Linked DNA regions of Homo sapiens. The protein of the gene in region 1 purifies or fractionates together with the protein of each later gene. This does not show direct contact. Each region holds a gene or a part of one and is shown in the gene's direction. Other genes may lie near its edges.

Region 1 (3,500 bases):
GATCCCGCCGCCGAGGTCTAGAAGGGCGGGTAGCCCTTGATTGTTCCAGAGGGTTTAAAGTGCTCCCGTCGCCTGATACTGGGTACCCAGTGGGGTGGGGGAGAGAAGTGCCAGAGCGAGTGCTCTGGCTCTGAAGAAACGGAATGGAAGAGGAAAAGATGTCTGTGAAGAAGGGCATTTTCTCTAATCTTTACCCTTATTATTTTTTTACTTCATTAGTTTATGCTAGTGTCTCTGTCTCTTACTCAATTTTCCTCTTTTTCAATTTCTCTTTCTCCTCCTTTCTCTCTCTCTCTCTCTCACACACACACACACCCTACACACATGGGCACACACACACAGTTTTCCAGGTTTCCCTCCCAAATCCAAGAAGAAATTGTTCCCTCTTCTGTATCTCCAGTCTGTTCCGAAATCATGGCTTCACTCTCAGGGATGATAAGCCCTTCTCCTGCTTCTCTTTTCCCAGACCCCAAAGTCTTCCCTCAGCCTGCTCTGGCGTCCCCCACCCCAAGTTCCCTGCTCAAACTCCTCACTACCAGCCTTTATCCCCTGAAGTTTGAAAATCCCCTGGCTAGCAGCAACACCTCAGTCCAAACAGGGGCCCTTAGGGGTGCCTGTTCCACCCTCCGTCCTCCAGCCTCCCAGCCCTAATCAGAGGGCAGCCCGCCTGCTCGCCAGAGACCTCTGAGAATGGAAGAAAAAAGGCAAGACAGAAACTAAACTGGGATCTAATTGCCTCCCAAGTATTCCAAATGGGCTCTGTACTCCAGAATTAAGAAGCCCCCACTCCATCTCCTACCGCATTTGGGGGTATATGTCCTCTGAGATTTTCTCCAGGTTCATTTTCTTGCTTCTCGGTCCTCTTTTTCACTCCCACCCCACTATGCCCCACTGCCTTCTGTAGCCCGAGGGACCACAAAGAGTTGAGGAGGCTTGGGGAAGGGAGGGGTCTGCTGTTGTCTCTGGAACACTCCTCCACTCCCAGCTCAGCTCCAGGCCCGCTTCTCCTGCAGCCGGCCCGAGGCTGCCTGGGTGCCTTCTGGACTCTCGTGTTATTCCTAGAGGCAAAGCTGCGCAGTCCCAAAAGCGATCAGGTTCTCCTCTTCTCTCAGTTTTACAATGACCTTCTCTAACCCAATGATAGTAACAGCTAGGACAGCAGAGGTTTTGAGGTACATTCTTGGCTTTTTTTTTATTTGGGGGAGTGATAGAAAAAAAAACCCCAAAGGTACTGGTTTCTTTAAGCCTCTGGAAGCCTCCCTGGCCTGAGTCCCTGACCCACCAAGCTCAAAGTTACATGGGGTCTGACCCTGTAGGTCTCTAACCAGAGTGTAGAGATCTCAGGACAGACTTTTTGCAGCCACATGCTCAGGCACCCCTAACAGGTCTCTTTGGGGTTCCAGGCTGGCTTGAGCCCCAAGTCTAGGTCTGACTTGGATGTTTTATTTTCTTGATACTACTAATAAACACAGAAAAATACTAATAAACACAGAATAATAGCTAATAAACACAGAAAAATAGCTCCCACCCTCCATCCCCATGTCCCCCAACCCGTGCTTCCCCCCAGCTGTCAACTTTCTAGGTGGGAGGTGGGGTCCTCAGGACATTACATTCTGAGGCTCTGCAAGTGGCTTCTGTTGCTGGAGGGCAGGAAGGCCATAGGTACCCCCAGTTTATCAGGGCCCCTGGAAACCGGCTGCTCCAAATCACCTGGCCTGACTTAGCCTTGCCTGGAAGAAGTAGGGGCTGGAGGCCAGGGGCCACTCCCTATCTCATCCCAAAGTAGAGCCTGTGAGTGGGGAGAGAGAGGGAATGAGGGAAGCTTTGCCAGACACCTCCAACCTATGCTGGAGGGAACACAAAAGCTGGAAATCAACTCTCACCTTTGTTGTCCCCAGTCCCGTTCCCTCTTCTGGTGCATCCAGATGGGAGAAGGCAAAAGCCAAGTATTCTAACCAGGAAATCACAGGGTAGTGCCTTACATGAAGTTAAGAGGACCAGTTTTCCAAGCTGCCTTTAGAGAAAAGAGTCAGCTTTCTATTTCATCCCCTAGCTCCGAGTCAGCAGTTAGGCAGAGTTGCAAACACTCCTGCTTTGGGAAATGTCCTGGTGCTCTTTTTGTCTTTTCCTTCCTCCCGGAATGACTATTCCCCACCCCCTGTCCCAAATCTGCAGACACCTACATTTTTGGCTCCTGTCTTCCTCCTACAGGCCTCCTCCTTGCCTTTTCCTGCCCTGCTCAAACACACCCTAAGAAAACTTTAGCTTTTGTGGCCTTCCTCACTTGTGCCAAGAGTCATAAATCTTGCAGGGCAGAGAGAAACAAACAGGGTTGTTCTGAATAATAATAATAACCATCTTCCATCTCTTCTGCCAGTGCATTTAAAATTAAGCGACCCTGCTAGTTCTTCTCTTCTTAGAAGTACAAATGTCCTTATCACCTCTTAGCCCCTTCTGCCTATTCGGAGGTGAGAATCATAACAGAAACTTATCCATGAAGTTCTTTCAGCCCGTCTACTGCCAGCCAGTCTGGAGCTCAAACTAAAACACAGAGTCCTCCTTTTGTCACCCTTTTCTCAACCCTCCTCCCCCTGCAAGATGTTCAGAGTTTTTAAAATCATCACTCACCGCTTGTTGTCTGTTCTCAAAAAGAAAAAGGGGGAGGGGTGTTTTTTTTTTTTTTTTTTTTTTAAGTTCTGGTCTTTCCCTCTCCCTTGGTTAGAGACTGGGCCTGGAGACTGGAGGGAGATTTGGGAGGAATAGAGAGGGTGTAGTGGAGGGAAGAAGCCGGGGCTGGAGACTCAGAAGGAGGGAGCCAGAGTGTGAGGGTTGGAGACCCAGAACTACTTTCTAAAAAAGTCCTGGTGTTCCAATTGCGAATGAGTGCAGAGGGGCACCCGGCACCCTCACCCCCGGGCCAGGCCTGCCTTTGACTCAGCCTCCAAATACTACTTCTCATATTAGCATAATAGTTCACTAGTGGGGTATGGGGGGAGCTGTGAACTTCACCGCCCTTCCTTGCCTTTGCTCACCTCTTCCTCCCTGTCCCTCCAATCTAGATTTAAATTTTTACCTGTTCTTTAAGGAAAAAAAAAAAACCCTCCTTCTTTTCTTCTTACTCTTTTTTTGGGGAGGCGGGTATTTTAAAATTTCCCCCCTTCCCCATCACCACCATCACCTTCCCTCCTTATCAGGCATCTAAGCTTGCTAAAGGGGGAGAGGTGGGGGGGTGTGAGCTTGTGTGTGAGTGAGTGTGTGTGTGTGTCTGTGTGGTTTTTTTTCCCTGTGCAAAAGCAGAGGCCATTGTTACGGAGAGTAGGGCGTACCAGTCTTATAGGGCAACCACACTGTGGCGGCTTAGCCCTGCTGGAGCCCGGAGCTGGATTCTGGCGAGCTGAGCCGCCCGGCACCTTTCGGTCTTCTATTTTTTTTCCCGCTCCCCCACCCCCTCCCTCCTGCGCACCCCTGCTCCTAAGCCGAGTGAATTGAAGCGGACGCCG
Region 2 (3,500 bases), on another chromosome or scaffold:
GACAGGGTCTGGCTGTTACCCAGGCTGTAGTGCAGTGGCACAATCACTGCAACCTCTGCCTCCTTGGCTCAAGCGATCCTCCCATTTCAGCCTCCCAAGTAGCTGGGACTACAGGCATGTGCCACCATGATCCTCGATCACTGCAACCTCTGCCTCCTGGGCTCAAGTGATCCTCTCATTTCAGCCTCCCAAGTAGCTGGGACTACAGGCATGTGCCACCATGCCTGGCTTATTTTTGTATTTTTTTGGTAGAGACAGGGTTTTGCCATGTTGCCCAGGCTGGTCTCAAATTCCTGGGCTCAAGCAATCCTCATGCCTCGGCCTCCCACAATGCTGGGATTATAGGTGTGAGCCGTGGCACCCAGCTATCTCTCTTTTTTTTTCATAATGAAACTTTTTGCTCTGTAAAATTTTGAACCTAGTCAAAAGTAGAAAGAGCATAGTAAGCACCTACCTACTTATCACCCAACTTCTGTAGTTATCAGCACGGGCACAATCTCCTTTCTTCTTTACACTCTACTCAGTGCATTAATTTAAAGCAAATCCCAGACATCATATAATTTCATTCTTAAAGACTTCAGAATTATCTCTAAGAGATAAAGAAATTCTTTACAAAAACAAATTTAAGGCCAGGCACGGTGGCTCATGCCTGTAATCCCAGCACTTTGGGAGGCCGAGGTGGGTGGATCACCTGAGGTCAGGAGTTCGAGACCAGCCTGGCCAACATGATGAAACCCCCTAAAAATACAAAAATTAGTTGGGTGTGGTGGTATGCACCTGTTTTCCCAGCTACTCGGGAGGCTGAGGCAGGAGAATTGCTTGAACCCAGGAGGTGGAGGTTGCAGTGAGCCGAGCTCGTGCCACTACACTCCAGCCTGGGCGACAGAGCAAGACTCTGCCTCAAAAAAATAAAAAATTAAAATAAAAAAACTTCCAAAAAGCACAATACCATTATCAAACCTACAGAAGTCAATAATAATCTCTTTTTATCATTAAATATCCAGGTAGTGTTCAAATCTCTCTGATTGTCTCATAAATGCCTTGCAATTTCATCACAAATGGCCAGAAGAATCCCTGCAGTCCCCGGAGTAGCATGGCTCTAACAAAATCCTGCTTTCTCAGCCACAAAACATTTCACTAACATTAGTTATTGGAGTCCCTACATTTGCCACTGAGCCAAGTTGGTTAGCAAAGCCAGAACTTGGAATATCCACCCAGAGGGATGACAAGCTGAGCCCCAAAGGGGCCATGCATACGAAGCCATCTCAGCAGCCTGTTGTCTGTTGGTTTGTTGAAATCAGATCCATGCAAATTCTGCAAATTGCATTGGTTGACAAGTCTCTTAAATGTCTTTTAGTCTTTACTGTTTCCCTGGCCACTTATTTGTTGAAGAGGCTGAGCTGCTTGTTCTGTAGAATTTCATACGTTTCGGAGGTGGCTGATTGCACTCTTGCCGGGGCGCGGGTTATCTTATTCCTTCGTCCCCTATATTTTCTTGTAAGCTGCTCATAGATCTAGGGACTTGATCCAATTCAGGTTAAATTTTTGGGCAGGCTATTTTGCAGGTAGCATCTTTGATCTTTTGCCCTCTTCATGCACTGATTTCTTCTCAAAGTGTAAGACAGTCTGCCTTGGGGAGGCAAATGAGCATCCCCTTTCACGGCGGTTTACTTTTTCTAGGGTTTGGACCCACTTTCAAGGAAGCACTTCATCCCTTGGTGCCGCATGAAGCCATGCTGTTTCCATGGGCTGGGCGGGGCCGGGCTCAGCACCTGGGTGGCCAGTCCCTCAGAGCTTCCTCCTCAATTTTTCTCTTTTTGGTTCCACTTTGGAGGTGACTAGACCCTGTCCTTTTGGAACAATGTTTGGCCTTAGGTTTGAGTCCACAGGCCCCTAGGTGTGCACTTGGGACATTTCTGCAGACACAGTGAACAGTGACCTAGGAATTATAGTCCACGAGCCAAGCAAGTTTTGTGTTGTTCAGAAAACTGGCATCTTGGCATGACAGTGATGGGACTCATGGCTCATTAGAGTGTGTCACCCAGATCCTGGACCCTTGGGAGATCTGGTGACCAGATTCTCAGGGGAGGGAGAGCCAGACAGACATGGTTAACGGGTAAGCAGGGAGGGGCTGCTGAAGGAGAGCCTCACCCAACAGCTCACAATCAAGACCCAGACAGAGGCCAAATCAAACACATACGTAGAGTTCTGAGCTGGCCACATAGACATCCCAGAGAAGGACGGTGTGGGGCTGAGGATGGTGTGGTGCTGAAGCCTCAGGGGGTGGGGTGAGCTGGTGCCGAGTGGCTGGGGCACCCAAGATGTGGACTCCCATTCAGGAACCTTCCTCTCATGGCACGCTGCCTCTAAGACCGGGTCCCTGAACGTGGCCGCCACTCAACTCTGTCAACTCATTCCCTTGGGGGCTCAACTTGTCATCTCTCTGGGTGGACATTCCAAGTTCTAGCTTTGCTAACCAGCTTGGCTCAGTGGCAAATGTAGAGACTCCATCAGTAACTCATGTTTGTGAAATATTTTGCGGCTGAGAAAGCAGCCTTTTACTAGAGCCCTGCTACTCCGGGGACTGCAGAAATTCCGGCCATTTGTGAAATTACAAGCAATATCTTGATTCTCTCTTCTAGTCCAGGATTTTTGTTATTGTTATTGATCTGAGAACAGGCAGAGAGCAACACATGGAATCCTTTTGGAAGGTGGGTGGTGTTGGTCTGAGGCTTTCTCTTGAGTTATTTTTCCTGAAAGCCAGCCAGTACTTCTTCAGTCAACCAATGTGTACAGAGTGCTTTGTTGGTGCCAGGCTCTGGCCTAGGCACCGAGGGGGATGTGGAGTTTTGCATGGCCACGGAGCTCTCTCTAGAGCTTGTGGACAAGGAAGGGAGATTAAACGCAACACAAGCACAAGCAGCTGAAATTCAAGACGGCCTCTGATGAGTTCCTGAGATGGTATAAAAAGAAGGCAGAGATAAGAAGCCTTCTGGGGTGGAGGGGACTGGAACTGGGAAGTCAGACAGGCTTTGAGTCTCACCTTGGTTTGGCCACTTCCTACCTGTGAGGACGGGGGTTGGTTTCCTCATCTGTAAAATGGATATAACAATGCCTGTCTCACAGATAACATGTGCAAACACCTTGCCCAGTGTTTACGCAGAGTATCCCATAGTAAACGTTAACTGGGAAAGATTTGTGGAGAAGGCTGCTAGGGTCTTGAGATGATAACCCAGGGGAAGAGTCACAGAGTCTGAAAATGCATCAAACGTCTAATTCTTCAAAACCTTTAAAATGACCTAAAACTGAGCCTAGTACACATTTACCTTGCAGGCCTCGAACGGCTTTCCCCAGCTAAGCCTGATGTGGCTTCACTCGGAATCTGCTTGGAAATGGCAGCAGAACCTGGGATTATTTAAATTGTGAGACAGAAAAGTGGGAAGTGGGAACAAATGTGGCATAAAGGCCGGGGCAAGTAGGAACCTCAGCCCCTAATGCTG

The links. The genes of interacting proteins can lie anywhere in the genome.
Region 2: the proteins of HOXB3 (region 1) and FBLN5 purify together in Homo sapiens (affinity purification with mass spectrometry; one large-scale study listed by BioGRID and IntAct). This does not show direct contact.

What each region holds. Positions count from the first base shown.
Region 1 is NC_000017.11:48,555,742-48,559,241, reverse strand, and holds part of HOXB3 (homeobox protein Hox-B3), read left to right. Parts: intron 1-175; exon of another isoform or gene 176-3,500. UniProt on the Homo sapiens protein: Sequence-specific transcription factor which is part of a developmental regulatory system that provides cells with specific positional identities on the anterior-posterior axis.
Region 2 is NC_000014.9:91,930,695-91,934,194, reverse strand, and holds part of FBLN5 (fibulin-5 isoform 1 precursor), read left to right. Parts: intron 1-3,500. UniProt on the Homo sapiens protein: Essential for elastic fiber formation, is involved in the assembly of continuous elastin (ELN) polymer and promotes the interaction of microfibrils and ELN. Stabilizes and organizes elastic fibers in the skin, lung and vasculature.